Linked DNA regions of Homo sapiens: regions 2, 3 and 4 are each linked to region 1. The links come from fine-mapping of genetic effects on gene expression. A gene starts in region 1. Each other region holds a variant in brackets. All regions are shown on one strand. Distances are between the middles of the regions.

Region 1 (8,000 bases):
CTAAGTAACTGAGATTACAGGCACATGTCACTGTGCCTGGCCAATTATTTTATTTTTTGTAGAGACAGGGTCTCACTTGTTGCCCAGGCTCATCTTGAACTCCTGGCCTCAAGCAAACCTCCCACCTTGGCCTCCCACAGTGCTGGGATTACAGGCATAAGCTACTACACCCGGCCCAAATTCTTTTCTTATACGACACTGTCTTCCCAAGCTGTGAAATGCTACAAGTGCATGCATTATTCATCTCCGAAAACCAACCACTGGCAGAGGCAACGCCATGCAATGCACTGCACGCAACCAAACGGTTACTTCTTGCATGCTATGCATTTTGCATACATTCTCTCAATCCTGGATGCTCGGGGTATTATAATCCCCATTTTATAGTTGAGGAAACCGAGGCTCAGCCCAAAGTCATAAGTTAATAATTGCTGAGCCAGGAGCTCACTGATTCATTCATTCAGCAAATACGGTCTCACTCTGTCACTCAGGCTGGAGTGCAGTGGGTGCCTTGACCTCCCAGGCTCAAGTGATGCTCCTGGCTGAGCCTCCCAAGTAGTCGGACAAGTGTAAGACACAATGCTCTGTTAATTTTTTTTTTCATTTTTAATTTTTGAGACAGTCTTTTTTTTTTTTTGAGACGGAGTCTCGCTCTGTCTCCCAGTCTGTAGTGCAGTGGCGCGATCTCGGCTCACTGCAACCTCCGCTTCCTGGGTTTTATGCCATTCTCCTGCCTCAGCCTCCCGAGTAGCTGGGACTACAGGCATGCACCACCTACGCCCGGCTAATTTTTTTTGTATTTTTAGTAGAGATGGGGTTTCACCGTGTTAGCCGGAATGGTCTCGAACTCCTGACCTTGTGATCCGCCCACCTCGGCCTCCCAAAGTGCTGGGGTTACAGGCATGAGCCACCTCGCCCGGCGAGACAGAGTCTTGTTATGTTGGCCAGGCTGGTCTCAAACTCCTGGCTCAAGTGATCCTCCTGCCTTGGCCTCCCAAAGTGCTGGGATTACAGCCATAAGCCACCATGCCTGGCCTTGAGGCAACCTCTTCCTCCCACAGGGAACTGTGATCCCATAAAAATGTCTGAGGCTTTTCCTAACAAAAGCCAGCAGATGCCAGAAAGAGTTATTTCAAATTATAGAGGGCCACTCCTTACTTTAGTGTCCCTTCCTCCTGGCCAGATTTCTGGCATTCCTTTGAGATTACCAGACTGGTGCCAGGGGACAGTGGGACAAAGGGCTTGTCACCTGGGCAGGCCATTGGCATGGCCCCACCTCCCTGTGAGCCGGTATTTTTAGAGAAAGTCCTTGGCTCCTTTATCCAAACGGCCTCCCCAGATTGAAGCCCTTGGCTTCTCAGCCTTTCAAACATCCAGTGGCCGGCCTCCGTCCCAGGGGCCTTGGTCTCTCCTACCTCCCTGCAGGTCAACTTCCAGGCCTGTCGCCACAGCAGCCTTACAAAAGTCCCCTTTCATTTTTATCCTTAAATAAGACCATTTTGCGTGGAGCAAGTTCAGCCAAGTACACACTCTAAAAGATTTTTGCGGCCGGGCGCGGTGGCTCACTCCTGTAATCCCAGCACTTTGGGAGGCCGAGGCGGGCGGATCACGAGGTCAGGAGATCGAGACCATCCTGGCTAACACGATGAAACCCCGTCTCTACTAAAAATACAAAAAAAAAAAAAAAAAAAAAAAAAAAATTAGCCAGGCGTCGTGGCGGGCGTCTGTAGTCCTAGCTACTCGGGAGGCTGAGGCAGCAGAATGGCGTGAACCCGGGAGGCGGAGGTTGCAGTGAGCCGAGATCGTGCCACTGCACTCCAGCCTGGGCGACTGAGCAAGACTCCGTCTCAAAAAAAAAACCAAAAAACATTTTTGCTTCTGGAAGACTGTGAACTCCCCACATAGAAGCATTTCCTGTGTATCAGGCACTGGATTTCCTAAGCCCCTGGCAGCCCAGGAAACCTCCTGTTTCAGCTCATGTCCCATAAAATGGGATCCATAATTTTTATATGTATCAGCACCTCACTTCTAGGAAGGACGGGAGCAGTGAGGGACATGGGGCAGTGTGTGGCAAACGGTAGCAGGGGCCCTTGCCCCTCTACCCCGGCAAAGGTGCGTTAGTCACGGTCACAAGGCTGTTTCCTGCGGGGGATGGGGAGGCAGGGGCAGCGTCCACAACGCCAGTAGCCCCGTGGCACGCACCTTTGGCCTGTGCTCTGGGCAGTTGCGGCGGCCCCATGGCGGGGATGATGCCCCTCCCTCGACGGTCCCTGGGCCTCCAGCCCTGAACTTCTAGGCCCGAGCATCCTCAGTACCACGGACAGGGAAACTGAGGCTGCGGGAGGCGTGCAGAGGGCTGGGCCCCGGTAGCCGGCGTGCAGCCGGGCCCAGCCTGGCCCACCGTGTGGCCTCGAGCCCGTCACCTCTTCCCTCCTTCAGACCTCGGTTTCTTAGTAATTCTTCGGGCTCCGCGTTGGACAGGGCGAGACGCGCCTGTGGCAGCGCTGGGAAATGTTACAAAATCACACCCACTGAGCCCCAGGAGGAGGCTGCTCGCCCAAGGTCACGCGGAGAGGGCAGTAGCCTCCAGACACGTTTCCTGCCTGCCCCTGCCAGGCCCGGCCTCTGATGTCACGGGGCTTCCGAGGGGTCCAAGGAAACTTTCAGCTCCCAAAGCCAACCCCGGGGTCCTCCGAGGCTCAGGAGCCTCCCTCGCTCGGCCCAGTCCGGCTCCGTCCCACCGCGGAGGCGCTCTCCCGGCGCCCCCCGCGCCTCGCTCCCCTCTCCCCCTTCCCTGCGACCGCCGGGGCGCCCCCTCGACGCCCCGCCCCCTTCGCCCAGGCCCCGCTCACGGAGGCCGCAGCGCTCTGGGTTGGGGGCGGCGCCGCAGCCAATGGGGAGGCGGTGTGGCGAGGGCGGCGGCGGTTATGATGCGCCGGGCCGGCGGACGGCGGCCAATCAGTGGCGAGCGCGAGGGCGGGCTGTGACGCGGCCGGCGCTCCTCGTGCGGCGGCGGCAGAGGAGCGAGTGCAGCGGCCAGCAGCACATCCCCGCTCCACAGTCGCCGCAGTCGCCGCAGCCGCCGCCGCCGCCCCGCGCGCCCAACCGCCGCGGCCCCCTGCCCCGCCGGCCTGCCAGTGAGAGAGCGGCGAGGGGGCGCCCGGCCGGACTCTGAGCCTAGTCCTCTCGCGCTGCGGCCGCCCGCGCCTCCTCGGCCGCCTGTCGGGCATGAAAACCAAATTCTGCACCGGGGGCGAGGCGGAGCCCTCGCCGCTCGGGCTGCTGCTGAGCTGCGGTAGCGGCAGCGCGGCCCCGGCGCCCGGCGTGGGGCAGCAGCGCGACGCCGCCAGCGACCTCGAGTCCAAGCAGCTGGGCGGCCAACAGCCGCCGCTCGCGCTGCCCCCTCCGCCGCCGCTGCCGCTGCCGCTGCCGCTGCCCCAGCCCCCGCCGCCGCAGCCGCCCGCAGACGAGCAGCCGGAGCCCCGGACGCGGCGCAGGGCCTATCTGTGGTGCAAGGAGTTCCTGCCCGGCGCCTGGCGGGGCCTCCGCGAGGACGAGTTCCACATCAGTGTCATCAGGTCGGTGGCGCCGGGTCTGGGGGCCGCGGGACAGTCAGGTGACGCGGGGCGGGGCCGGGGCGGGGTCCGGGCAGGGGGCGTGGGCCGGGGGGGTCGGGGGCCGGGGGAGCCGGGGCCGGGGCGGAGGCCGGGGACCGGGGACCGCAGCCGGCGAAAGCCCTCCTTCTCCCAGCCCTGGGTAATCCAAGGGAAGCGGGTTCGCGGCCGCCGCAGGCCGTCCACAAACAGGCTTTTGTAAAAACGTCGGTTTCATGAGAAAACGGGTCTGTTCTAGGAGAACAATACCGTTCCATCACGAAGTGCGTGTGGTACTGACGCTTAAGATAGGTCTAGAAAGTCTCTGCGGTTTAGGGCCTTGAATGAAGGTGTTGTGGCTGGCTTTAAAAACACAAACCACTTTTTAACTTTTTTCTGTTAGTTTTTCGAGTTCGCGATTTGATGTCTTGTTCCCTCTCCAAGAGTCATTGTTAGTGGAGGAGTAGCATTTTCTCATCCCCTAAGAGACATCACTATAGCTGTGTTACTAGACAAAGGTGGGAGGCGTGGCTCCTAAAATAAGAGTAAGGTAGAAATGTTTTTTCCTTTTTTTTTTTTTTTTGAGACGGAGTTTCGCTCTTGGTCCCCAGGCTGGAGTGCAGTGGCGCGACCTCGGCTCACTGCAACCACGGCCTCCCGTGTTCAAGCGATTCTCCTTGCCTCAGCCTCCCGAGTAGCTGGGATTACAGACACACGCCACCACGCCCGGCTAATTTTGTATTTTTAGTAGAGACAAGGTTTCTCCATGTTCGTTAGGCTGATCTTGAACTCCCGACCTCAGGTGATCCACCCGCTTCGACCTCCCAAAATGTTGGGATTACAGGCATGAGCCACCGCGCTCGGCCATTTTTTCCTTTTTTTAAACTTGAAAATATTTAATCTTAAATTTGAATTACAGAAGTACGCGTGTAGGTATTCAGACTTAACAGAAGTCTGACCTTCTTTCACCACTCTGCTCCGAAGACATAACCATTCAACGTAGTGTGTGCATCCTTCTATTGAGACCTTTAAAGATGTGTTCCCGGGCCGGGCGCAGTGGCTCACGCCTGTAATCCCAGCACTTTGGGAGGCCAAGGTGGGCGGGTCACGAGGTCGGGAGATCGAGACCAGCCTGGCCAACATGGTGAAACCCCATATCTACTAAAAATACAAAAATTAGCTGGGCATGGTGGCGCACACCTGTAGTCCCAGCTACTTGGGAGGCTGAGGCAGGAGAATCGCTTGAACCTGGGAGGCGGCGGTTGCAGTGAGCCGAGATCACGCCACTGCACTCCAGCCTTTGACAGAGAGAGACTGTCTCAAAAAAACAAAAACAAAGAACGTGTTCCGTCATTTTCTGCCAATTTTCTTTTAATTGGCTGACAGGTTGTGTGCAGTATCTAGAAATTTGCTGGCTGGCTGCCACCAGTAATCCCCAAGTCCAGTTTTGGTCATTTGATTCCTTTTCTGTGCCCACTGTCTTTCACCAGAGCCGCTAATGCAGCAAAATTAACTCTTTGAGCTTCACTTCCTCTTTGTGCTTCAGCCCCTCTGACTGCTTATGAGCTAAGAGTGAGAGTTAATAGGCAGTTGGTAAGGAAGCAGAGAAAAGAAAACCGAGGCTGTTTAGATAATCCCTGAATTGCTTAATGGCACTTAAAAAAAATTCAGCTCTCTCCAAGGTTTACTTTAATCTACTTTTAGTTAGGCCTGAAAATTCTCAACTAGAAGGGCGATCATTTTAGGCCATGTACTCATCAGTCTGTGAAATGGAAAACCTAAAGGAGAAGTGACTTGCCTGAGGTCAGTGGCTGTTTACTGCCTTCAAAGCCTGAACTGCCAGGTCTCTGGTGTCCCCTTCTCCTGCACCAGTGCTCTAGCCTGCGGCCTGTGAAAATGTTTGGACACCCTAGATCCAGCCTTAAGATATTTTCATGGCTTTCTCCAGGGAGAGTCACTCAGCAGTTAAACTTTTGCATTTTGCTCAAACCAGTTATTAGGAAAGCATTGAGGATGTCTTGTTTCTTTTCTCCAGGAGTTAGCAGTCTTGGAAAACACAGCTTTCCTTTTGGATTGGATGACCTTTTTACATAATGTTGCAAGAGTACACTCTCTCAGTCCTGTGTTCTGAAAGAGAACGTAGTTATGGAATAAGTTTAATAAGGAGAAAAAAAGGTGATTTAGGACATGGGAAAGTGGGTGATGTCTAGCTTTTAAAAAAGACACAAGGGCATTTGGAGGTGCGGAGAAGGAGAGGAATTCGTCTGGTTGAAATTCAGTGATTCTCCATAGGCAGTTGCAGTTATTATGGCTCCAGCTATCAAATTTTACTGACATTTCCCAATCTGATTCTGGTTTTTGGTTTTTTTTTGGAGACAGGGTTTCACTCTGTCGCGCAGGCTGGAGTGCAGTGGTGTGATCACAGCTCACTGTAGCCTCGACTTCCCAGGCTCTGGTGATCCTCCCACCTCAGCCTCTCAAGTAGCTGGGACTACAGGCACGCACCACCATTACTGGCTAATTTTTGTATTTTTGTAGAGATGGGGTTTCGCCATGTTGCCCAGGCTGGTCTTGAACTCCTGAGCTCAAGCAGTCCTTCCGCTTCAGCCTCCCAAAGTGCCAGGATTTTAGACCTGAGCCACCATACCTGGCCCCGATCCGTTTCTGGAGCTCCGTGTTTCACTGAGTGCCAGTGCATCTGCAGTAGTTGATGAGACTTCACCACCTCAACTCAGTGCATTCCTATTCCAAATTTAACCCTTTGGCTCCTCCCCACCCAGGAATGTGCTTCTGCTTTCGCTCTGCGTTTGTAGCAGCAGCCTGGCCAGAGCCCCAGGATCATTTCTAACTCTGCATTCCCCCAGAAATCCCTCCTCTGCACACAGTTGTAACTCAAACCTGATGAGCTACTTTTGTATCCCCACCTTCTGTCTGGTCCCTTTGCTGTCCTTGCTTAGACACTAGAACAGGAGGTGCCTTAGGATCTTCTTGCATTTTGTGTGTTCCTTCTAATCCATTCTGTATCTTGTTGCTATGGATTTCTCAAATATTGGAAAATAAAATCCAAACTTGTTTGCATGGTCTAAACTTGAGCCTTGGCCTACCTTTTTATTTTTTATTTTTAAATTTATTTTTTGAGATGGAGTCTTGCTCTGTCACCCAGGCTGGTGTGATCTCGGCTAGCTGCAACTTCTGCCTCCTGGGTTCGAGCGATTCTTGTGCCTCAGCCTCCCGAGTAGCTGGGACTACAGATGCACCACCACATCCGGCTAATTTTTGTATTTTTGGTAGAGATAGGGTTTCACCATATTGACCAGGCTGGTCTCGAACTCCTGACCTCAGGTGTTCCACCCTCCTTGGCCTCCCAAAGTGCTGGGATTACAGGCGTTAGCCACTGCACCCTGCCCGGCCTAACTTTTTAGACTGGTTCTTTTTGTTATTACTGTTTTAAAATCACTCCTTCTCCAGAACCACAGCAACTAACATTGAGCTAGTTACACTGGAGCCTGCATTTTCTGAATGAGCTTTGTGTTTTCAGTTTCCAGGCCTTTCTTTGCCCCTACCCTCTGCTTGGCAGCCTTTCCCTTGGTGTGTTTCCTTTAAAATTCCTCTTTCAAGGCTTAACTCAGAGAGAACCAGACATACTGAATTTCTTTCCCCTCTGTGTCTCATCCTTAGCACTTTGTACATGCAGGCCTTGTTATCACAACCCTTAACACGTTTGTGTGTGTGTTTATTCATTCCATTCTCTTGTTAGATTGAATTCCTAGAGGGCATTTCACGTTCATCTTTGTATCTCCAGCACTAGGATAGTGCCTGGCACACCGGAACTGGATAAGTGTAGAAATTGTCATTTTTAGCTTAAGTTGGCCTCTTTGCTGTGTGATGAACGGAGATCCTTGTCTGAGTCTCTTCAACTATGAGTGGTATAGGGAAAAATAAAAATTGTCCTAACATGAGAGTTGTTGTTAATGAGCTGACCACTTAGAAAATTTGTTCATTTCCAGACATCACAACTTAATACTAACTTCTGTCCCTGCCTATCAAATCAATAGTATGTTATTAGCATTTTCTTTCTTTCTTTCTTTTTTTTTTTTTAAGACAGTCTTGCTCTGTTGCCCAGGCGGGAGCACAATGGCGCGATCTCGGCTCACTGCAACCTCTGCCTCCCAGGTTCAAGCGATTCTCCTGCCTCGGCCTCCCGAGTAGCTGGGATTACAGTCACATGCCATGTCCAGCTAAATTTTTTTTTTTTGGTATCTTTAGTAGATACAAGGTTTCACATGTTGGCCAGGCTGGTCTTGAACTCCTGACCTCATGATCCGCCTGCTTTGGCCTCCCATAGTGCTGGGATTACAGGCATGAGCCACCACGCCTGGCTACCTGGCTAATTTTTGTATTTTTTGGTAG
Region 2 (8,000 bases), 29 kb before region 1:
AGACCGCTGGAACCAGTGTGAGGCCCTGAGCAGCTGGGGCCCAGTGTGGCAGGAGTGAAGGTGCACTTCCGTGTTGTTTGAGCACCTAGTACGTTCTTGGGGTTTGGAGCAGGGAACAAGATTTGAATCTTCAATGTGGGGTAAAATCAAAGCCATGAGAGTGGGTGTCTTGGTCTCTTTGTACTGCTATCACAATATCACAGACTGGGCAATTTAGAACCAATAGACGTTTGTTTGGTTCATGGTTCTGGAGGCTGGGAAGTTCAAGATGGAGGGGCCGATTCTGGCGAGGAAGACCTTTCTGCTGCATCGTCCCGTGCTGCAGAGAGGGGAAGGGGCTTGACTTCTATTGGGAGCCCACTCCCACGATAATGGCATTAATCCATTCATTCATGAGGCAGGGCCTTCATGACCGAATTGCCTCTTAGACCCCACTTCTCAACACACTGTTGCACTGGGGGCTGAGTTTCCAGCATGAACCTGGGGCCATGCTCAGACCACAGCAGTGAGCTAGCCTAGGGAGCTGGCTGAGGGCAGCCCCTGCACCCACCCTCACTGAGGCCTGGGGGCGGCAGGAAAGGCTGCTCCCCCGCTGTTGGTCCTCGACTTCGGAGAGCTGAGCTTAGGTCAGTGCTTCAAGGAAGAGCCGGATGGGTTGAGAGGGTGGAGGCAAAGTTTGTGAAGGAGGAACGAGAGAGGATGACCACTGGGAAGGGAGGAGGTTCATTTCATTAATAGGAGACCCAAGTTGAATCTTGGAGGCGGGGAGCTTGCATAGTAAGTGTGTTCTGAGAAAGAAAGTGAAGGAGTTACTTGGAGTAGGGCCTCAGGGGGGTCTTCAGAGAGTAGATCCGTCTTCCTTCCAGGAGGAAAAGAGGATTTGGGATGTGGTGAGGGAGCCAGTCCAGAGTGAGGTTTTCTCTTGTCTGGTAAGTAGGAGGCAGATGAGAGTGAAGACAGGAGGGCCAGGAGGTTTGAGGAGTAAGAAGGAGGTTTGAAATTGAGAATGGGAAAGCATGCTGACTGTAGAAACCTAGTTATCATTCATTAAAGAAATATCTACTCATCACTTTCAAGGTACCAGGTCAGTGTCCTGAGCCCAGGCTGGTGGCCAGCACTTCCCTGCACAGGTGTGAGCCTCTCAGGCACACGTGGGCCTTTACCCAGGTGGAGACCACAGAAGACAGCAGGGCTGGGGGCCCTAGGGTTCAGGTTGGCAGGAGAAGGGGTTGCATGAGAAGCCGTGCATACCTGCAGGTTAGGGAAGAAAAGGCAAGTCTGTGAGCTGAGTGGGTCACTAGACAGGTGAAGGTGGAGGTGTTTGAATCCTGGAGGCTCCCTGTGGGCAGAGGACTGCCAAGCATTGGAGCAGTAAGCAAGTGTGGAGGGCAGGCGGAGAACAGGCGCTCAGAGCTCTGGAGGGGCCACACTTTCCTGTGAGAACAAGGTCCTAGTCGGGACCCTGGTAGTGGAGTGGTCACAGTTGTGAGAAATCATGGCATGGGTCACCCAAGAGGATGGCAGACAACCTTCATGGTGGGCCTCCAGTGGACTTCCAGTGAGTGCAGGCTTCTGGGGCTCAGGGAACAAAGCAACATGCCTTGGGGGGCTACCACACTCCATACAGGGAGCCATACAGAAACTGGGCCTGTGGGGAAACGAACGGGGAATACCCCACTCAGGGTGGTGGTGCTCTGGGGCCTTAATAAACAAGGAAATCGGCCTGCCTGAGATTGTGCAGCTGGTGGCAAGTGACAGAGGCAGACATTAACCCCAGGCTCCAAGGCACCAGCTTGTTTTTTGTTTTTGTTTTGTTTTTTTGAGACAGGGTTTCACTCTGTCACCCGGGCTGGAGTACGGTGGTGTGACCATGCCTCACTGTAGCCTTGACCTCCCAGACCTGAGCAATCCTCCTGCCTCAGCCTCCTGCTGAGTAGCTGGAACAACAGGTGCGCACCACCATGCCCCACTAATTTTTTTACTTTTTGTAGAAACGGGCTTCTCCCTATATTGCCCAGGCTCATCTCAAATATCTAGAGAGCACAGGTAAGGACCACAGAGCTGCCAGTGTTCCAGAGACCCCCAGCCCCAGCTGCGCAGCCCCACCTTTGCCAGGGTGATTCTGAAAGTCTCTGTCTCCTCGGCATTCCTGTGGGTCTACTTGGGAGGCTGAGGCTGGAGGATCACTTGAGCCCAGGAGTCCAGCCTGGGCAACATAGCAAGACCGATCCATCTCTTTAAAAGAAAAAAAAGGCCGGGCACGGTGGCTCACGCCTGTAATCCCAGCACTTTGGGAGGCCGAGGCAGGCAGATCATGAGGTCAGGAGATCGAGACCAAACTGGCTAACACGGTGAAACCCTGTCTCTACTAAAAATACAAAAAATTAGCCAGGTGTGGTGGCACACGCCTGCAGTCCCAGCTACTTGGGAGGCTGAGGCAGGAGAATCGCTTGAACTTGGGAGGCGGAGGTTCCAGTGAGCCGAGATCACGCCACTGCACTCCAGCCTGGTGACAGAGCGAGACTCTGTCTCAAAAAAAAAAAAAAAAAAAAAAGAATCCCTATGGGCGAAAAATAGGAATCATTGCTTTCTACCCACTTTCCATGCAGTTATGTGGGGCCAGGAGAAGTCTGTCTAAAGATTATGCCCCAGATAAGTGGGGTGATCCACGCCCACTGTCAAATATGCTTAGGGAGCTTGAAAAGTGGGAGAGGTGCCACTGCCCAAAGCACGGGCTCCTAGGAAGCCACAGGTGTTTGCTGGCCCTCAGGCACTCCATGGGGGCAGGCCTCTTGTTATCTGAAAGGGTGAGTCAAACTGGAGGGGAGCGGAGCATGCCTAGAGACAGCAAAGGAAGTCCGAGGTTTCCTCCAGCCAGGCAGGCTGCTGGACTTGACGATTAGTGTTTTTTTCGTTTTGTTTTGTTTTTCCTGTCTTTCTTTCTTTTTTTTTTTTTTTTGAGACAAGGTCTTGCTTTGTTGCCCAAGATTGGAGTGCAGTGGTGAAATCTTGGCTCACTGCAGCCTCGACCTCCTGGGTTCAGGCGATCCTCCCACCTCAGTCTCCCAAGTAGCTGGGACCACAGGCACAGACCACCACACCCAGCTAATTTTCTGTATTTTTAGTAGAGATGGGGGTGGGGGCCGGGGTCTCACCATGTTCCCTAGGCTGGTCTTGAACTCGTGACCTCAAGTGATCCACCCACCTCGGCCTCTCAAACTTCTGGGATTACAGGTGTGAGCCAGCATGCCCAGCCTGGACTTGGTGATTTTAATAGCGACTTGACAGAAATGTCATCCGGGGCAAAGGAATAACTGCATTTGATGAGGAGAAGGTTTCTTGTGTTATTCTCTAAATTATTACTGTGATTCCCCTCAGGACAAGTGTTTTCTCTCATGGGGCAGAGGCTGGAAGCTATAATTACATGAATGGGAAGCAGGGTTCTATTTACCGAAAGGCAATTTACATCTCATAAGCACGTCTGCAAAGCACGTTACACTTTTGCCACTCTTCATGAGTGTGGTTACTCCCTGAGCAGCAGGCCGGGGT[C/T]AGGTAATTTTGATTTCATCACACCAGCCTCAGTGGGGATGGCAAGTTGAGCACTGATAGAACGTGACTGGAAGCTACAGGCCAGGAGTCTTGGACTTAGCTGTTCTCCAGAGTGACTCTTCTTTTTCCTTTTTTTTTTTTTTTTTTTTTTTGAGACAGAGTCTCACTCTGTCGCCCAGGCTGGAGTGCAGTGGCACGATCTTGGCTCATTGCAACCTCCACCTCCTGGGTTCAAGCGATTCTCATGCCTCAACCTCCCGAGTAGCTGGAATTACAGGCGCCTGCCACTACACCCGGCTAATTTTTATGCTTTTAGTAGAGAAAGGGTTTCACCGTGTTGGCCAGGCTGGTCTCAAACTCCTGACCTCAAGTGATCCACCCACCTTGGCCTCTCAAAGTGCTGGGATTACAGGTGTGAGCCACTGCGCCCGGCCCAGAGTGACTCTTCTATACACAAAACTCTAATTTCCTCCTCTTGCTAGTCAAACCATGTTTTTCTTCTGCGGTAAGCGGCAAGCTGGGGAGGCTGAGCTAGGTGTGGTGGCACATGACTGTCATCCAAGTGGACCAGAGTTGACTCAGGCACCCACTTGGCCTGGGGCAAGGTTGGGGGGCACCTGCCCTGCCTCACTTGTTCCCAAACCTCAGATTTGTAACTTGTAAAGCAGAGGGAGTGAAAGCGCTCTGGGTTTGTTGAGGATTCAGCAGGAGAGTGCCCATCGTGCCCTTCACATGGGTCTGGCACCCAAGTCAGTTGGTACCCGTGTCCTGCCTCAACAGTCTGTGGGTGCACCCCAGACACCTCATGCGCCCTGCTCTGCCCCTAACCTCTGCCCTCCTCAGCTGACACCTGCTCAAACTGCCTTCATTACAACCTTCTCCAGCTCAGCTGCGTACTCAGACGATCCTGGATCCCGGTTCTATTTTCCCCTGGCTGATGCCCCTCTGTCAGTCAGGCCGCCTCTGTTTACCCGAAACCTCCGCTCCACCCCCGGGCCTCTCCTCCTTCCAAGGCAGTCTCTCTGCAGTCAGCTGCTCCCCTGACAGCCTTCCCTATTTGAGTGCCGAATAACGGCTGGTCACTCAAAAGGCACAGGGGATATGGGGGTGATTGAAACCCACTCCTTTCCCTCCAGGGAAACACACACGAACATCAGTAAAATGTGGTAATTGCCAGGATGCATGTGTGGAAGAAGCGTGGCAGGAGGACCAAGGAGAGTGCCCCCTGTTTCTGCTGGGGAACCAAGCAAAGCAGGCTTCATGGAGGAGGTAAAATTAAGAAGGGTCCTGAGAGATGAATAGGAGTTCATAAGCCCAAAGGGCAGAGGCGGTGGACACCTGCAAAGTCCTGGAGACATGGAAGGACAGGGTGTCTTATGGAAAGGAGGGTGAGAAGTTCAGCGTGGCCAGTCCAGAAAGTTTAAAAGGGGATGATAGCTGGCCGGACGTGGTGGCTCATGCCTATAATCCCAGCACTTTGGGAGGCTGAGGCGGGTAGGAGATCGAGACCATCCTGGCTAACATGGTGAAACCCTGTCTCTACTAAAAATACAAAAAATTTGCCAGGCGTGGTGGCGGCCGCCTGTAGTCCCAGCTCCTCAGGAGGCTGAGGCAAGAGAATGGTGTGAACCCGGCAGGCGGAGCTTACAGTGAGCCCAGATCGTGTACTCCAGCCTGGGCGACAAAGCGAGACTCCACCTCAAAAAACAAAAAAAAGGGATGATAGCTGAGGACCATTGACCTTAGGAGATGGGGGCATCTGCCTCTAGGTGAGGGCCCTGATCAGCACCCTAGGGGCACATTCTGTCTTCACCACCTCCTGATTTTGCAGCGTCTCCTATCTGAGCCTTAGTTTCTGCTCTGTAAAATGGAGATGATAATAGTACCCAACTCACTAAGGATGAAATAAAACAGCAAAAGATGCGTGAGCACCACGTCGGGTGCGTGGTAAGCATTCGGTAACTGTTAGCAGCTTTTGTTATTTCCTGGAATCTAATAGCAAAGCCTGTACTTTTCTACTGGCTTCAACTAATCAGCCCCAGCCCCAGCCCAGCCCTCCAACTTCCTCCTGGCCCCCAGCCCCAAGTGTGGCCCAACCATTCCAGGGCTGGGTGTCTTCCCAGAGCAGAGAGATCCAGGCCTCCCACTGTACAGAGAGGCAGGGACAGTGACTTGCTTGGGGACACACAGTGAGCAGGAGCAGGGGTAGCCCGGGCTTGAACCCAGGGCAGTAGCTGCCCTTCCCTGACTGTTGGCTGTGGCAGGCAGTGCCCCGGAAGGGCTGCTCTGGGCTTTGAGCCAGCAGCAGCCCAGCCAGCAAGGAGGTGGCCGCTATTGACAGATGATAACACGTGTTTGTTTAGCTAGAGCCACTCACCAAAGGGGCGTTCAACTCCCTGCAGCAGGGAGCTGAGCTTGAGGCCAGAGTCTTTCTGCCCTTCCTCACTGACACCCACAAGGGCTGCTCTGGCCTTAGAGATCGCCTGGCTGGAAACTCACAACTGTGTGTCTCCTGGATGTTTGGGAACATGAAAATCCAACAAGGTTCCACATCGCTGCTCCTGGGCGGAGTAGCCCGAGGCTCCAAGTGGGACAGCAGTCCCCAGTGTCCCCCAGCCTACCAGCTCTACCACATGGGGTGCTCCAGGCTGGGGACCCCTGGGAGGCCCTGAGGAGTGGTGGCTTGAAGAAGTGGGGGTGCTGCTGGTCGGTGGTCTCAGCGCTCCCCTGGGTTATGAAGGTCTTTGCACTTGCTTCTCCCTCTGCCTGGGACCCCCTCTTTGCCCCACCCGCTCAGGTCTCTTTGTAGATGTCACCTCCCAAATCTTCCCTCACCCCTCACTGCCATCCCGGGGCTTCCCTCCCCTTAGCCCTGAGCCCTCCAGCCACATGGAGTCCTTGGAGCCAATGTCAGGCTGATGGGGAAGGAGCTTCTTCTCTGGGAAAGCAGCCCCCAGAGACTCCAGCCTCCATAATGCGGCAGGATTCAGGTCACCCTGAAGTCAAAACCTCAGGTTGCCAGCCGCTGTCAGAGCCCCTGGGCCAGTCCAGACCCCTCCCACCTGCGGAAGCATGGAGCCCAGGAGGCCATGTTGGGCAAACAGGCTGTGCCCAGACAGTGCCCCAAGACCAACTCATCACACCCAGTGAGTCCTGGCAGAGAAGGAGCCAGAAGCCGGGGACAGAGCTTTCTCTGGGTTGGGCAAACGACGTGGTGTGAGGTCTGAGCAGCGTCTGGCTTCAACCTGCTGCTGCCACAGGCTGTGTGCCAAGAGAGGTCAGGGGACTGGCAAGAAACGAACTGTCCTCGGGCTGGCCCTCTGCCTACTTCCTGGTATAGAACACCCCGCCCCGGGGGTTCCCACGCGGCCCTGAGGGCTGGGCCCCAACAGCACAAAGCTCAAAAACCCAGCCTCCCAAGGCGGGCGGATCACCTGAGGTCAGGAGTTCAAGACCAGCCTGCCCAACATGGCAAAACCCCGTCTCTACTAAAAATACAAAAAATTTGCTGAGTGTGGTGGTGGGCACCTGTAATCCCAGCTACTTGGGAGGCTGAGGCAGGAGAATCACTTGAACCCAGGAGGCGGAGGTTGCAGTGAGCCAAGATCGCGCCATTGCACTCCAGCCTGGGTGACAGAGTGAGACTTCGTCTCAAAAAAAAACACAAAATACCAGCCTCATCCAGCTTAAAGGGCCAGCCTCCCCCGACTGCCTTTGCACAGCCAAGAAATACAGAGAGGGAAACTGAGGCTCAGTGACGGGCCAAGCGTGTGTGTCAGGCAGGGGCAGAGCTGGCACGAGGCCCCATCTCTCCTCCAGACGAGAAGGGAAAGTGTGCTTTGGTCGGGGAGTAGTGCTGCAGGCTCAAAAGAAGGAATGAGAGAGAGAGGCTCAGGGTGCCCACTGACGGGCCTGGTAGGGAGATGGGGCCTGATGCGGCCCCATCCTGAAGCTGCCCCTCCCACCCCCAGTGGGGCAGCCAGGTTAGCACGTGACCCCTTGGCTGGCAGACACGCAGAACAGGGCTGTCCTGGAGATGAGCCAGGTGTGACCCATACCCCCATACCAGACAGCATTCTGGGCATTGAGTCACAGACCTGAGGTTCCCAGTCATTAGGTCAGGTGAACAGACTGCAGTAAGGGTGACAGCGTGTTACTGACCACATGGCTTCCAAAGGCCGTGGTGTCAGCCGGGTTCAGAGGGGTCCTGTTGAGAGAAGCTGACCTTGGACTCTGGCCTCCAGAAGCTGCAAAGGACTGGCCTCTTTCCCTCCTCCAGCTTCAGCCACCCCCAGACCAAGGCACTAGACGGTCCAGCTCCTACAGCCACAGCACCCTGGGGCTGTCTTCAGGGAAACTCACCCCAAGATTCCATGCATTCATTCACTCACTCATTCATTTATGCTCTGTTTGCTGAGCCTCCACTCTGTACCATGATCTACACGGGGCAC
Region 3 (8,000 bases), 67 kb after region 1:
GTTGCTGTGAGCAGGAAACACATAAAAACCAAAGTGCTTTTTCCCATTCCTTTCATCAGCAACAATCATCACCACAGAAGACTAAAGTGACCACGTCAGGGGTGGTTCTCCCCGCCAACAAACAAGTAATCAGTTCTGGAGTGGACACCAGATGGGTGCCCTCCAATTCCATTACGACACTGTCTACGTGGGGACAGAGTCAGACCCCACAGGTTGAGGGTTGAGACCTTAAGACTGCCCCCCACTTCCAACACCAGTTGCAAGTCCAGGCCTCTGGAATTTCTGACCAACTAGCCATATATTGGAGTTCCCACGTTCCCCTCGGGTTCAATTAATTTGCTAGAGCAGCTCACAGAACTCAGGGAAACACGTAAGTTTACCAGTGTATTACTTTTTTTTTTTTAAGACAGGGTCTCACTGTGTTGCCCAGGCTGGTCTCCAACTTCTGGGCTCAAGCGATCCTCTTGTCTCAACCTTCCAAGTAGCTGGGACTACAGACATTCCGCCACCATGCCTAGCTAACAAAGGGTATTTTAAGGGTGAAGAGATAAATAGGTGGGGTGAGGTCTGAAAGGATTCCCAGCACAGGAGCTTCTGTCCCTGTGGGTGGGTTGGGGAACTCATTCTTGTTCACCTTCCTGTCAGCCTCCACATTCAGTTCTCTAGAAACTCCCCAAACCCTGTCCTCTTGGGCATTTTATGGAGATGTCATTGGATAGGCATGATTGAAATGTGGACAACCGTGTTGAAATGTGATTGGACAAAAAAGGTGTGATCTAAACCTAGCAAGACCTGACCAGGTTCTTCGGGCTTCTCTGTACAGCATTCCTTATCCCAGGGTATGGTGCAGGACCCCCTCTGGAATAAGAGTCTTATGACCCACAGTCAGATTAGAGTCTAGCTTTGGGCAGGTGAAAGGACGGCAGAAGGTCAGAGAGAGAGATTCTGTTTACTGTAGTAAGGGCTATGGGAGTTATGAGCCAGGGACCCTGGACAAAAACACACATATATGTCATCACAGTTGGACTTTATCAAAATGAGTAACTCTGAACGATATCATGGAGAAAATGAAAAGGCAAGCCACAGACTGGGAGGAAATACTACAAATGTATATTTAATAAAGGACTCATATTTAGGATATATAAAGAACTCATAACTCAGCCAGAAACCAAACAGCCTGCTTCATTATTATTATTTTGAGATGGAGTTTCGCTCTTGTTGCGCAGGCTGGAGTTCAATGGTGCGATCTCGGCTCACCACAACCTCTGCCTTCTGGGTTCAAACGACTCTCCTGCCTCAGCCTCCCAAGTAGCTGGGATTACAGGAGCCCACCACCATGCCTGGCTAATTTTTTTTTTTTTTTAAGTAGAGACGGGGTTTCTTTGTGTTGGTCAGGCTGGTCTCGAACTCCTGACCTCAGGTGATCCACCCGCCTTGGCCTCCCAAAGTGCTAGGATTACAGGCATGAGCCACCGCGCCCGGCCTCAGCCTGCTTTATAAATGGATGGAAGATTTGGACACTTAAGAGAAACACATGGCCAGTAAGAATCTTTTCATGTGTTTTGTATAATTAGTCATTAAAGAAATGTGAATCAAAGCCTCATTGCGATACCCTACACACCCACAGTGATGGCTAAAACTTGAAAGAACTGACGGTCCCAAATGGCGAGCACATGGAGCAATGGGAATGCGCATGCGCTGCTGCTGGGAATGCAGTCGCGACAGCCAGTGTGAAGATGGGTTAGACCACCCAGCAGCCCTCCTGGGGAATTTTTCCAGAACAAATGAAAACAAATTCCACACCAAGACTTGCACTCAAACACTCATAGCAGCTTCATTTGTTTGTCTGTTTTTGAGACAGAGTCTCACTCTGTTGCCCAGGCAGGAGGAGTACAGTGGCCCGATCTTGGCTCACTGCAACCTCCGCCTCCCGGGTTCAAGCAATTCTCCTGCCTCAGCCTCTTGAGTAGCTGGGATTACAGGCGCCCGCCACCGCACCCAGCTAATTTTTTATTTTTAGTAGAGGGGGTTTCGCCGTGTTGACCAGTCTGGTCTCAAACTCCTGACCTCAAGTGATCCGTCTGCCTTGGCCTTCCAAAGTGTTGGGATTACAGGTGTGAGCCACCTCGCCCGGTCTGCACCTTCATTTATAATCGTCCCAAACTGGAAGCAGCCTAAATGCCAGTCAGCAGGTGTGTGGATACGACAGTGCCAGATCCGTGTACTGAGAACACTCGGCAGTGCAAAAGGAAGGTGGCACCAGTGCATGACAGCACAGGCCACTCAGAGACAGCACGCTGAGTGAGAAGCCAGACACGAGGCTGCATATTGTATAGTGGCATTTATGTGCTACTCTAGGAAAGAAAAGTCCAGTCCATAGTGACAGATATTGAGTCGGTGGCTGCCTGTGGCCAACTGCAAGAGGCCCATGGGAGCTTGTAGGGATGCTGGAAACACAGGTCTCCTGACTGCGGTGGTGGAGAACTGGCTGGATGCATCTGTGAAGGCCCTCAACTGGACACTTAAAATGGGCTCATGCTTGTAGAGTAGAAATTACAGCTCAGTTAATTTTTCAAAAAAGTTAATTGTAATCTTCCTGGCTTCTAGAATTGCAGACTTTTAGATTAGGAGTGGGTCTTTGAGATTGTGTTGTCCTCACACAACACAATCCCAGAAAAATAGTGGCAGAAACAGAACACCAAGCCGGGTTTTCTCCCTTGCCTCTCAGTGTCCTTCTTAAAAGTCATGCTGCAGGAGATCCCGGGAAATAGGCGATGGGCATCCTCTTCTCCCCTTCTGTTCTAGACTCGCCTGTGTCCCAGGGGTCTTTTGCTCTAAAAGGTGTGTTATGTCGGTCAGTCAGTGCCCACAGCACCCAGGGTTAGCAAGGTGATGAATGGTAGCAGTGCTAAGCATGTGGATGAGACGTTCATCCTGAGAGGCAGGGCTGGGCTGGCCCATGCCTATAAACCAGGCCTCCTGAGAATGAAGGTGTGTGGGGTGGGCTGGGAGCTTGAGGAGCCTGCACCTGTAGAGCAGCGAGGCCCCCGAGCAGCCCTGCTGCACAGGCCAGTCCTGTGCTTTTGGTCTCATGGGTCCGTGCCCTCAGCTCTTGCCTGGGGTGGGGATTGGGGGACACATGGGCAGGGTTCAGGCCAGCAGGATTCCTTGCTGAGGCCTTCTCTTTGCTGTCTCCTAGGACTACGCCCAAGCAAGGTTTGATGCCTATTTCCACCAGAAGAGGAAGCTTGGGGTGTGACTGTGGGGAGGACTCCATCCACCTCATCACTGGACTGCATGGGGAGGCAGCAGAGCGGGGTCCCCTCTGTGCTTCGACTACTGCTCCTGTGGCAGGAGGCTTTGGGTGGCTCACTACTGAACACATGTGTATGATACTAAAGACGGTATTAAAATGGAGCGACGTTTATTTCATCTCTTGTTTACGATTTCACTAGGACTCAGAAACGAGATCGGGAAGCAGAAATATAGTGCAATAGTGCAACATCTCTGAATCCTTTTAATCTAGAGAAGGCATTTCATATTTGGGGGCTAAGGTTTCCAGTCAGATGAGGCAAACAGCAAGAGTAAGCAGTGTTACTTGCAGGTACTTTGGTTAATGTTGATTTAAATTTTCATGAATGTGCTGGTGAACACTGTGACCAGGCTTTTGTAGATGGCGATGTGTTATAGACGGTGCTCACTCCCAAGGGACAGCAAGTGAGCAGAGATGTACTGCAAAGTCGCCAGTCACTGCTGCAAGGTGGCCTCTGCCTGGGGCCTCCAGAAGCTGCTCCTTTACCCTCTTGGTCCCATGGCTGAAGCTGGAGCAGCGGATTGCTCTGGAGCAGCCAAGGCCGCCAGCGTGTGGAGCAGAGCTCTCCCCTCCTGCTGGGCGTGTGTGACACTGATGAGTTTCACTGTACTGCATGTGACTTCTCCCCTGCCCTTCCTCCTGATGGAGTGTGCAGACAGCCATGCGTGGCCACGGGGGCAGTGTGAGGACCTCCCTGTCTCCCGGCTCCCCTCCCAGGGGAGCCAGCTGCTTGACCTAGCTCTTTGGGCCTCTCCTGCCCTCTGCTCTGCCTGGAGTGTCGGATCCTGTGAGTAGGCTGGGCCTCCCCTGGGCAGGGTTCTCCAAGGGCCCGGTTTCCCGGCCCTTACCTTTCCTGATGCCCCTGACATCATCATTCTTGTGGGAGACAGCAGCCTGTATGTGGTGTGGGGCGTGGATCGAGTGTAGCTGTGAAATCCATATATATGAAATGTCCTGCGGGATACAGTCTTAGCTGACTTTTTTTTACTCTGAACTCTTA[T/C]TTGAATTGTTTTTTGTGCATATATTTCTGCTACCACAGAGATTGTACTATACAAATAAAAAAATAAAAACCCAACCTCAAGCTGTCACCCTTGGATGTGTCCTGAATCTCAGGCAGGGCTCCTGGTACCTGAAGGAGCCCACGGAGGGCTCCATCTGCACCCACTCAGCCCCTTAGCTTAGCAGTGCTCCGCTGCTCTCAGCTGGCATCCCAGCAGCATGTGGCCCCATCATCAGCCCTCCTCCACCTCCTCCTCTTCTTCCCCAGCACACTCTGGTTTCCCTGCTTCTAGCCCAGAAGCGAAGAGCCCTGGAGGACGTTGGAGACTGGGAGCAGTGCTGGTGCCTGGGGATGCTGAGCGGCTGGGCAGGAGGGAGGCTTTTGCTGTTCAGCCTTCTAGAGAGTTACAGTTTTAAGCAGGTGAAGCCAAACTGAATGAAGCAGTAAAGGTGTTGCGCTCCTGCACAGGAGCTCCAGTGGCTTCTCACTCACCGTCTTCCTGTGCCCAGGCCACTGCTGGCCTCACTCAGCCCTCGCCTCTGCCTGGTCCACACGAGCTCGCTTGCAGTCTCCTCGCAGAGATACATGTGGAGCCGATCTTCCAATACTGGGCTCCTTCACTTTGCCCCACTGTCAGCTCAGTCACAGTCTCAGGCCTTCCTATTCTACCCAGGACACTGCCATTCCCTAAACCACCCTGGGCCCGGCCCTGGCCCATCGTTTCTCTCCATGCAGCTTAACTTTCCTGGAGCCCCTGGTGGTCTCTACATCAGGCCATAAGCTCACGTGGACAAGGATGGGCTCGGGCCTGTGCTGTTCAGTGCCCAGTCCTCCACGCAGGTGACCCACCCCATCCCTATGTCTCCCTATGTCCATGCCCCAGAGGTGCCCACCCCAGTGCCTTATGTGCCATTCTCTTGGCAAACTGGACTTCTCTAGCCACCACTGCCAGGCACCCCCATGTCAAAGCCAGGGCGGGGCTGACTGGTCATGTCCCTGGGATCCCACACTGCACCCCTCCTAAATCACACTGGGGCCACTCACCACGAGTGCTGCTCACCTATCCCCACCTCACTGCCCGCCCCAAGTCTCTGCCCAGCTCTCTCCCCAGGAGGGAGTAAGGCGTTGGGTTCTGGATTTGGTCCAGATCCACCTGCAGCTCTCCGGAGTCCTTCATTTAGCCTTCTCTGCTCCTACCCCAGCACTGTGAGCACCGTTTCTCTAAGCTGAATCTGCTGGGCATGTGGAATTACCTTAGAGCCCCTGATACGACCCCTGGCATCCAGAGGTCCTGAGCAAAGCAGTCCAGGAGCCAATGGACAGGCTCCTCCCAGCAGCTGGCCTCAGCCACAGCTGTGGGAAGAACCACTTTGCAGCTTGTTGGCTTCTGGGAAGCACTTCCTCTGCCTCCCAGTGGGGGTGGGACCCAGGCCAGAGGGAACTGCAGAAAGCCACCCCCATTCTGCCAGCAACGCAGGAAGGACCACCTGGGAGGGATCAGGAAGACTGTAGTCTCAGGTGAGGGGAGGCTGGGCCTGGAGTCAGGCTCAGCCCCTGTTCTGAACCCCGGGGTCCTGGGTAATGTCTGCTGCTGGGGACAGCCTCTACCCTTCCTGGCAGGTGTGTGGCCTTGGGCGTGTGACACCATGGCCCTGCATGGAGCACTGGCCGGGGCTCAGGTGCCCCACACTGCTCTGTACTTCCAGACCCCTGAGGCCCGGCACCAGGGCATGGATATTGGCACCACTCCCAACAGAGAGTAACCCAGACACCCGCTCACAGCCAGGTGCACACCTCCAAGGATGGGGAGCTCACTCCCCTGACCCGGCCTGGGAAGACATTTGCTCACTCCAAGTTAGAATGTGCTGGAAACATCTCTCCTTGGCCCTTTTCTGCCCCTTTTCACCCCAAGAGTCTGACATTATTGCAGATCTGCTCAGGTCCAGGCCTTGACTTTTGAGGTCCCAGATCCTACACCATGCCTTCTACCCTGCCACCTGCCTCAGCTAAAAAGGAGGGAAGAGAGACGAGACATCACTGCCAGGGCGGACCGTCTTTATTCCTCTCCTGCCTCAGAGGTCAGGAAGGAGGTCTGGCAGGACCTGCAGTGGGCCCTAGTCATCTGTGGCAGCGAAGGTGAAGGGACTCAGCTTGTAGCCCGTGCCTGAGTAGAACTTGTTCTGGAATTCCACCCTGGGGGTGAGAAGCAGAGGGGTTGGTGAGGGGAACTCACGCCTTGAGCAGCCCAGGCCAGTGGGTGGTCGCTCACCAGTGCAGCCGCAGGGCGTGCAGGAAGGCTGAGAGTCCCTCCATCACCAGCAGGATAGCCACGGTCATCACGGCAAAGGCGGCAAAGATGGGGACCAGCACCACAGCCGCCACGCCCACCTCCCGGCCCAGGCCCAGGCCTATGCGCATCACCATGGCCCACAGAACCTCGGACAGCTCTGCAAGCAAAGGAGACAGTGGGGGCCAACGGCAAGTGGGTGCCTGCCAGCCCCCTACCTACCTGCCGCAGCCTGAAGCCCTCCCTGCACGGGGGGCCAGCGAGGGACCTCCTTGGACAGTCCCACTTTACAGAGGGGAAACTGAGGCCCAGAGAGAAGCAACCCGCCCAGCCAGCAGCGGTATGTGAGAAGCCAGGAGCTGGGGCCAGCCGTCGGTGGCCAGGTCACTCACGGGCGTGGGCCAGGCTCAGGGCCCACAGGCGCAGGTAGGAGGCGGTGTTGGAGACGCAGCCCAGGCAGAACTCGATGGTGTGGATGGCCTGGTGCATGAGCACCTCGGAGGGGACGAGCTGCGGGGCGGGTGCAGTGAGGGCCGGCAGGGCCTCAGCCGTCCCACCCCCAGGAAGGCACTGCACCCACCTCGGCCTCCTCTTCATCATCCAGGCCCCCTGCCTTTTCCTCATCGGAGCTCCAGCCATTCACAGATGCGTCAGGCAGGTCCAGCAACCCGGCCTTGTTTTCCTCCTGGGGCATGAGCAGGCAGTGTTGGCAGCACTCCAGCCCCAGGAGGTCCCCCACCACCCGCCAGGCCTGCTCCTGGCCACTCAGGAGTCTGTCAGGAAGCGAGGAGTCAGGGACACACCGGACAGTGGCCTCTCCCCGCAAGCAGCCCCCCACACCTTAGGCCCCGGTCCCACCTGTCGGTCAGCGGGCCTCCTCCGCAGGCGGCGGCGGTGGCGGTGCAGCAGGTGCAGGGGTGTGCCAAGCAGCAGGATGGGCACCATGGCCAAGGCCAGGACCACCAGCGTGGCCTGGACCACCTCCTGCCAGGGAGAGGGCGAGAGTCAGGGCGTCCCTGCTGTGCACACCTGCAAAGGAACCTGAGTCACAGCAGTCACGGGGCCCAGAGAGCCTGCGGTCGCTCCTCCCTCCAGGGCCCCCGGGGGCTCCGTGCCCTCACTGGGTGAGGGTCTGCCTCCATAAGGACTCCTGAGGGAAGGGACCCCCGGTTCCCAGTGCCAGTTGTGCCACCTGCTAAAGATGCACACCATCACCTCTGACGGCCCTGTCTGCACGGCCCGGGGCCTGCATCCCCGTTTCTCGGACGAGGATCTTGCAGCTCCCAGTGGCCCTGTGACCGCGGGGTCCCCATGAGGCCGTGTGAGCCCGGCCCCCACCAGCCGCAGCCCACCTGCCGGGGGTAGAGCAGCCTGTTGCTGGGGCTGTGGGAGAAGAGGAA
Region 4 (8,000 bases), 84 kb after region 1:
GAGGTGACAAAAATAACCAGAGCCTCAACTGAATCCCTTCATCCACACGACCTCACACTAATCCCTGGGGGGAGAAACCCTTGGGGAGGGGGTACGGTGCTTTTGTTTCATACAGGACTCCACTGACACTTGGAGAGGTAAAGTCCAATGTTATGTGCCCAGCACAAAGGGTGAGCTCAGAGGAGGGTTGTGTCTGACCTGGCTCCCTTTGGGGCTGTGCTGGCCAAATAAGGAGGTGTGGGGAATCAGCTCTGGGGATCTGGGGAGGGGTCACCCCTGGCTCAGGGCCATCAGGGCTCCCACAGCCACTATGCCGAGGGCTCGAGGGCCGGGCTCCTTCCAGCACTTCCCAGGGGGTGGGGGAACAACCTGTAATGGGCGGGGGGAAAGGTGTGGGGACGTGATCAGCCCCCGTGCCTGGCATGTGAGGCTCCACTGGCTCACCCCCTACCCCTGTCCCCCTTGGTCCCCGCTCTAGCCAGGGTCACCCAGCCACTTTTATGGTGTAAATGAATACGCCTCCATCCTGCGGCCCTGGGGTCCAGGCTCCAGCCCACTCCTCACCCTGTGCCCCTTTCCTGGCCCCTCCAGGAACCCAGCAGGTCTCTCTGCACCTCTGCCCTCCCCTCCAGATGATGGGAAGGCAGTAGGAGAGGGTCTGGCGCCCCCTCCATTCCAAATGGGGTGGGCTCTGGAGTCAAATGACCCAGCTGGTCTCCAGCTCTGACACTTCCTAGTTGTGTGGTCTCAGCTTCCCCATCTGTAGAATGGGTCCCTCCCTCCAAGGAAGCAGCAGCGGGGAAAGCTCCGCGCACACCAGGCCCGGGAACGCTGGGCTGTGTTGGTAAACACCCCATCCTTCTCCTCCTCCCTTGGGGATCCTCCGTGGCCCCCCGCAAGGCCTGACACCCTGCGGGGTGGCGGGCTGAGCTGCATTCACGGAGCCAACTGGGTGGGGCGCCAGGATCTCCTCCCCGGGGCAGGGGGAAGAGGGTGGGCAGGAAATTCTGGGGCTCCGCAGACCCCGGCAGGGGCACTCACCCCGGGTGTGCTGCGCGCCGCGCCTCCGCTGCTGGCTGCCCCGCTCCGCGCACGCCGGGCGGGACTCAGAACTGCACTCCCGCCAGCCCGGGACTAGGCGCCGCTCACTCCTTTCCGGGCAGGCGGGACGACGGGGAGGGGCCAGGGACGCCCCGCCCCCGGCCCAAGGCTCCACTGGAGTCCAGGAAGTCTGGGAGAGGTTGAGCCCAGGCTGTGGCCTGGCGGACGGGTCCTGAGGCGCTTAATCCCGGAGAGGAGGCCTGGAGAAAGGAGCGGATAACAGACCACTGCCAACCGCGCGCGTCTATGCTGGCCCCGATGCAGGGGCAGCTCCGCTCAGGCCCAGCTCAGGATAGGAGATGAGACCCTGCTCTCCTCTCACTTCGAGGCTTGTGCGCCTCTGGCTGATGGGACCCCAACATTCGCAGGCTCATGGGCTTGGGGTCCCCAGGATGCTCCCCCACCTCCGGGACCCCTCCCTTGGGCGGCAGTGAAACCCGCCGGTGCTTACACCTTCCTGCTCTTGACCACCCTGGAGAGGCCCCGCTCTGGCCCTTGGGTGGGTGGCTGCCCCACTCTGGGCCTGCTTCACTGGCAGCAGGACACAGGGCCAGGCCATGCTGCCTTGTTCTGCCCAGCGCCCCGCACCCAGCAGGCCCTGGGAGATACCCTGGGGCCAGAGGCCAGCTGTCAGCTCCACCTGCAGCTGCAGCCGCGGGGGGTAGAGGGGGGTGTCACTGTGACCTTGCTCCAGGTCAGCACCATGGGCGTCATCAGGTCCTAGTGCCTGGAAGCTGGGACTCACGACCGTCCAGCTGCCTGCACTTTGGACAGGCCTGGGGCATTCCCACTGGAGGCCAGGGGCCCTTCAGCTCTGGTGATCCCTAAGCCCCACACAGCGAGCACAGGCCTGTGGGGCTGCGGCAGGGGTGGACAAGTGGAGCCCCAGAGCCGGGCCTGGAAACTGAGTCACAGCCAAGCTCAGCTGTGGTTCCTCAGAAAATTGGGGGACTTGTGGTTGGGCGCCATAGGCCTGTTCTGACAGGGTCGGGGCCTGATACAACCAGACAGCCTGAGTGGGGTCTCAGCAGTAAGTGCCTGGGAGACCACGGTAAGGGAAAGAACCCAGCGGTGAGCTGGAAAGACTGACCCGCTTGGAATAGAAGTATTCAGTGCACAGCTACAGGCTCCATGCCACGCTCTGACGGCGGTTACGTCTGGGAAAAGCTAAACCGGCGGTGCTTCAGGAGTCCTGCGCCTGCCTTGTTTTTGGAAAGAACACCTGTTTTCATCAGTGGCCAAGATGAGCTGCGGGCCAGACCTGTGGACACTTCCCGGGCTCCAGGCTTCCCCTCGCCTCCTGCAGTTACTTCTCACCCCAGTGCCACAGGCTGTGGGGCCCAAGCGGGAGCCTGGCCACTTTGGCATTAGATGGCAATGCCTGGTCTAGGAAGGAGGCCCAGGTGTTAGACCTGAGAAAAGCTCCCTGGGAATGGGCTGGGAGAGGCTGGTGTTTTTGCTGCAGGCCTTCTCAGAGCCTTGAATGTCTACCATGCAGTACCTGCCAGCAGGCACACAGCAGCTGGAGCATTTCCAACACTCACTGGGCCAGGAAACTTGTTCTTTCGAAGAAGTAGCTTTTTACAAAGTAGTGCTTTGTAAAAAGCACTTTTGGAAATGATGGTAGATGGGGGGGGTCAAGGTCTCTGAACTGAGTTTTATTATGGGATGTGCCCTGCATGGCCCTGAGCAAGCCCTTTCACCTCTCGGAGCTGGTTTCCTCACTGCAAATGAAGTGAAATCCTTCCACAGTACTTAGCACAAGTTCAGGGGGGCTGCTTTTGGCCATTATATGGGCAAGGGGCTTGTGTGTGGCCCTAGGGAAACCCCACCGTGTCGCTGGGCCAGCAAAGCAGGAAGTGGTGAGCAGTGGCCGGGCCAGCACCCTGGCGTAGGGAACACAGGAAAGAGGATGTGGCTGGACGCAGGCCAGCTCAGGGCCAGCAGGGCCTGTGTCACCCTCGTGTGACTGTCACCCCAAGCAGGCTTCCTCCTACCCCCAGCAAGGATGCCCCGGCCTGAGTTTCTGCCACTTGCTGTTCTTCAGCCTGAGGTCTTGGGAGGCTCCAAGTCCTAAGCGTCTTACAAGTGGATGGCTCTTGGGAGACAGGAGGCCCAGGCCCCAGCCAGGACACCCGGGAGAGTGGGAACGGCAGGTCTGTGGTGACCTCTGGCATCGCTGGGCCTTGGGGAAGACGCCCAGGAAGAGGCAGGGTGACAGGGATGCTGCGGCCTGTGGTCTAGCCATGAGAGCCTGGTGGGGCCCTGGAGTCTACAGGAAGGCAGGGCTGGGGCAGCAGGACTCCAGAGAGCATAAAGACTAGGTGGCGACCTAGTCCAGTTGGAGGCACCACAGGCCTCAGGCAGGCCGGGAACGGCCCCACCCTGGACCACCAGAGTCAAGACAAGAGGCCGTGGGGTCGGAGTGGTTTTATTGGGCAGCAGGGGCTGCGGGCCGGTGGGGCGTCACCGATACAAGTAGTCAGCCTGGATGTTGGCGGCGATCTCGGCCTCCCACTTGTCCCCGTTGTTGAGCAACTTCTCCTTGTTGTACAGCAGCTCCTCATGGGTCTCCGTGGAGAACTCAAAGTTGGGGCCCTGCAGGTTGAGGTGCAGGGACGGTGGTTAGGCCCTGCTGAGGAGCCTCAGGCCCCCTCCCACCCGGGGGCCTCACGTGCCTCGACGATGGCATCCACGGGACAGGCCTCCTGGCAGAAGCCGCAGTAGATGCACTTGGTCATGTCGATGTCATAGCGGGTGGTCCGGCGGCTGCCATCAGCTCTTGGCTCAGCCTCGATGGTGATGGCCTGCGGGAGGGGCCACCAGACACTGCCACGCTGCCCTGTCACATCCCAGCCCCCAGGGCCCCTGTCACTGCTCATCCCCACCCCTGGGGTCTGCCAGAAGCCCTCTCCCCTCAAAGGCCTCCTGGACTCCGGCTAAGAGGCCGCCCTGCACCTCTGGTGCTCGCGCCTGTCTCCTCAGCACGTGCCCTGCTGGCGTCCCTGCCTTGCTGGTTTTTTTTTTTTTTTTTTTTTTTTTGAGATAGAGTCTCGCTCTGTCGCCAGGCTGGAGTGCAGCAGCACAATCTCGGCTCACTGCAACCTCGGCCTTCCCGGTTCAAGTGATTCTCCTGCCTCAGCCCCCTGAGTAGCTGGGACTACAAGTGTGCATCACCACGCCCAGCTAATTTTTGTATTTTTTAGTAGAGATGGGGTTTCACCATGTAGACCAGGATGGTCTCGATCTCTTGACCTTGTGATCCGCTTACCTTGGACTCCCAAAGTGCTGGGATTACAAGCGTGAGCCAC[C/T]GTGCCCGGCCTGCCTTGCCTGTTTGTCAGCTGCTGGCGTCATCTGCCAAGAACCCCCTCTCACGAGGGGGCTGTTCACCGCTTTGTTCAGTGTAGCACCCGCTGCCCTAAGGGTCTCACCCTGCGGTGAGTGCTGAGTTACAGTCCCGCCTCGCCTCACCAAGCTTTCCAGATATTTTGAGTTTTACAAATTGAAGGTTTGGGGCAACCCTGCATAAAGCAAGCTCACTGATGTCATTTTACCAACCATGTGCTTGCTTCTTATCTCTGGGTCAGCACTTTTTAGGAATAAAGTTTTTGTTGTTGTTTTTGTTTTTTGAGACAGAGTCTTGCCCTGTCACCCAGGCTGGAGTACAGTGGTGCAGCTCATAGCTCACTGCAGCCTCAACCTCCCAGGCTCAAGCGATCCTCCCACCTCAACCTCCCAAGTAACTGGGCCTACAGGGGCTAATTTTTTGTATTTTTTGTTGTTGTTGTAGAGTCGGGGTTTTGCCATGTTGCCCAGGCTGGTCTCAAACTCCTGGGCTCAAGTAATCCCCTCACCTTGACCTCCCAAAGCACTTGGACTACAGGTGTGAGCCACTGTGCCTGGCCCCTAAAGTATTTTTAATTAAGGTATATACATTGTGTTTTAGACACTTCGCAGCCTACAGTACAGTGTAAATCCTTTTTTTTTTTTTGAGACGAAGTCTTGCTCTGTGGCCCAGGATGGAGTATGGTGGTGCAATCATAGTTCACTGCAACCTCCGCCTCCCAGGTTCAAGCAATTCTCCTGCCTCAGCCTCTTGAGTAGCTGGGACTACAGGTGTGCAACCCCACACCCGGCTAATTTTTGTATTTTTACTAGAGACGGGGTTTCAACATGTTGGCCAGGCTGGTCTTGAATTCCTGACCTTGTGATCCGCCCACCTTGGCCTCCCAAAGTGCTGGGATTACAGGCGTGAGCCACCGCAACCGGCCCTAATTTTTTTTTTTTTTTTCAATTTTGGCTCACTGCAACCCCCACCTCCCGGTTCAAGTGATTATCGTGCCTCAGCCTAGCAAGTAGCTGAGATTACAGGGACCTGCCAACGTGCCCGGCTAAGTTTTGTTATTTTTAGTAGAGACGGGGTTTCACTATGTTGGCCAGGCTGGTCTCGAACTCTTGACCTCAAGTGATCCGCCCACCTCGGCTTCTCAAAGTGCTGGAATTACAGGCATGAGCCACTGTGCCCGGTCTAAATCTAACTTTTAAATGCACTGGAAAACCAAAACAGCTGTGTGACTCAGTTTACCCCGATGGTCTGGAGCCGAACCTGCAACATCGCCAAGAATGCCTACACTGTTGGGTGCAATCCTGTGCCTTAAATCTACTTCTCTCCATTTGATGGATGAGAAAAACAAGGTTCCGAGAGGTTGAGGGGCTCCCCAAAGCTACACAGCAAGTGGGGGCACAGCCCAAACTCAAGGGCACGTCCTAACTCTCAGTTCCTGGGTAGCCCGCTGGGGGAGGGGCTGGCTGGGAAAACCTTCAAATGTGCTTGGCAAGGACTCTCATATGCCCCCATCCCAGAAATGTAGTGTCCACAACTCACAGTGGGACCTGTGGCTGGCAGGCTCATCCTTTAGTGCTTATAAAGATGGAGACAATAACCTCGACCTCCTCGAGGGGTTGTGGAGATTACAGGAGAGGCTGTGAGTCACACACATGGCACAGCACCGGGTCTGTCTGTGGACAGCACTCACTGTCTGGAAGCCAAGGTTGTGACCATCGTGACTGCTGTTTGGGGACACTCCTATGCACTCTCAGTCCGTGGCTGGAGTAGAGACATCAGGGCCGCAGCTCATGGCCTGGAGGACCTGGGAGTGCTCCAGAGGACAAACTAGGATCTGGACAGGAGCCACCCGAGTCACAGAACACTGGGAGGGGTTGCTGTGCACACAGAAAGTAGCGGCGGCGGCTGCCGGGGCTCCTGCCAGGCACACACAGGGGTCTGACCAGAGCTCTGACCGAGTCATATTGTTCCCGTGCTGGCAGGCCTGGCCCCCACGGGTAAGCACGAGACCCACTAAGAGAACGGAAAGCCGGGCCTCAGGGGAGCAGCCACTGGGGAAGGGAAGCTGCAACAGGCACACAAGCAGGACTCCGGAAACGGTGGCTACATCCAGGGAGGCGTGGATGGCCTCAGGTGTCACCCCATGGCTCAGAGGCCCAGGGGTCACACCCTTGGCCAGACCCCAAGGGGGAACCTCTGTGTGTCAGGCGCCTGCCCAGGGCTGGAAGCTTCACTCTGCCAACTCACTGACTCTGTGCTCTGGTAACAAGCCCTCATCATTCCCATTCACGAGGGAAGTGGCTCAGAGGGGGAAAGGGACTTCCTGGGGACGCACATCAAGCAGGGGCTAGGGTTTGGGCCTAGGGCTGCCTGGCCTCCCTCTCCCAGTGGCAGGGGCTGGCGTGGTGGCCGGTTGGGGCAGGGGCTCACCTGGGCGGGGCAGATGGCCTCGCAGAGCTTGCAGGCAATGCAACGCTCCTCCCCGGATGGGTACCGGCGCAGCGCATGCTCCCCACGGAAGCGAGGGCTCAGCGGGCCCTTCTCGAACGGGTAGTTGATGGTGGCCGGTTCCCGGAACAGGTAGCTCAGGGTCATGCCCAGGCCTGTGGGCAGCACGGGTGTGGTGGGCAGGGGCACCCTCCTCCCCCATGCATCCGTGCCCACCCGGCACCTTCCCTGTCCCCTCATGCCCAGGACGCACCTCGGAAGAGCTCAGTCCACAGCAGGGTGCGGGCTGCCCGGTCAGTCACTGACTTCATGTCCATCTCGGGATCCTGCATGTTCACATACTCTGCAGAGAGGCGGGCAGGGAGGCCATGGCAAGAGGCCTCACACACTGTCTCCCTGGAGCCTCAGGGAGAGCAGCCTGGCCCTCACTTCCAGGTGCAACTGCTGGGCTACAAAGGGGCTGTACACTCACCACACCTCTCCCCAGCCTCAGCAAGGACCCTGGAGGCCGCCTCTGGCCTGAGCCCGTCCGTGCCTACCTCTCCCTGTGCTTGGGTGGCCATTGGAGCCCAGACGCACTTCCCTGCCCAACAGGGCTTGAAAGAGGAATCAAGGGGGGTAGGTGGGGGGCTTGAGCCTTTGCCTTCACCAGGGACTGGCAATAGGCACAGGTACCCATGGCTCACACCTGGCAACCCCCTCCCCATCACACCCAGGGAGCTCTGAGATCACACATGCTAACCTCGGCAATGATGGACCCTGCCCCTGTGAATCAGAGTCAGTCTCCATCACCATAATCATTTTAAAAGTGGAAACAGGCTCAGAGAAGAACGCCCCTGACAAAGCCAGGACTGGAACTCAGGTCTCTTCCCCTACTCCAGCAGGACCAGTCAGGAACACCTGAGGCTAGAGGCCACCCAGGTACTCACTGTAGGTGGCTGCCACTGCACTGCTGTGGAGGCTCCGGCCACCAGGAGGTCCTGCAAAAAGAAGGGCGTGACGTCATACCAGGAGACTGGACTCCCCTACCCCCAGCAAAGGCTTCTTTGGTCCTACCTGCACGTGCAGCCTGGGCCAGGGCCCGCAGCAGCATAGGCGTGGTCAG

What was found. PIP is the estimated chance that this variant, and not a neighbour inherited with it, causes the effect.
Region 2: its variant is fine-mapped to the expression of CHKA in whole blood (TOPMed, PIP above 0.99).
Region 3: its variant is fine-mapped to the expression of CHKA in whole blood (INTERVAL, PIP 0.94).
Region 4: its variant is fine-mapped to the expression of CHKA in whole blood (INTERVAL, PIP 0.95).

Annotation. Positions count from the first base shown.
Region 1 is chr11:68,116,403-68,124,402 of GRCh38, reverse strand. It overlaps CHKA (choline kinase alpha), which reads left to right and starts at 3,015. Exons shown (of 12, transcript NM_001277.3): 1 at 3,015-3,575. The coding sequence starts at 3,226. It overlaps CHKA-DT (CHKA divergent transcript), which reads right to left and starts at 2,515. Exons shown (of 4, transcript NR_183630.1): 1 at 2,200-2,515. RefSeq lists silencers at 2,161-2,260, 2,611-3,040, 3,611-3,740 and enhancers at 1,510-2,276, 2,277-3,042, 3,891-4,020, 4,161-4,290, 4,716-5,232 and 1 more.
Region 2 is chr11:68,145,113-68,153,112 of GRCh38, reverse strand. No RefSeq gene overlaps it. Among named protein-coding and RNA genes, the nearest start is that of CHKA-DT, 27 kb to the right of the region's middle. The variant C/T (reference allele first, on the strand shown) is at 3,550.
Region 3 is chr11:68,049,247-68,057,246 of GRCh38, reverse strand. TCIRG1 (T cell immune regulator 1, ATPase H+ transporting V0 subunit a3) reads right to left here. Exons shown (of 20, transcript NM_006019.4): 15 at 7,953-8,000; 16 at 7,459-7,584; 17 at 7,181-7,285; 18 at 6,993-7,110; 19 at 6,583-6,760; 20 at 6,352-6,506. The coding sequence ends at 6,428. CHKA (choline kinase alpha) reads left to right here. Exons shown (of 12, transcript NM_001277.3): 12 at 3,200-4,388. The coding sequence ends at 3,259. Among named protein-coding and RNA genes, the nearest start is that of MIR6753, 8.5 kb to the right of the region's middle. RefSeq lists an enhancer at 6,326-7,318. The variant T/C (reference allele first, on the strand shown) is at 4,314.
Region 4 is chr11:68,032,161-68,040,160 of GRCh38, reverse strand. It overlaps NDUFS8 (NADH:ubiquinone oxidoreductase core subunit S8), which reads right to left. Exons shown (of 7, transcript NM_002496.4): 2 at 7,952-8,000; 3 at 7,825-7,875; 4 at 7,149-7,238; 5 at 6,878-7,050; 6 at 3,780-3,908; 7 at 3,517-3,699. The coding sequence ends at 3,568. It overlaps TCIRG1 (T cell immune regulator 1, ATPase H+ transporting V0 subunit a3), which reads right to left and starts at 1,136. Exons shown (of 20, transcript NM_006019.4): 1 at 1,042-1,136. It overlaps MIR7113 (microRNA 7113), which reads right to left and starts at 7,297; the gene lies at 7,239-7,297. MIR4691 (microRNA 4691) reads right to left here and starts at 6,264; the gene lies at 6,180-6,264. RefSeq lists silencers at 945-1,024, 1,085-1,264 and an enhancer at 1,156-1,777. The variant C/T (reference allele first, on the strand shown) is at 4,413.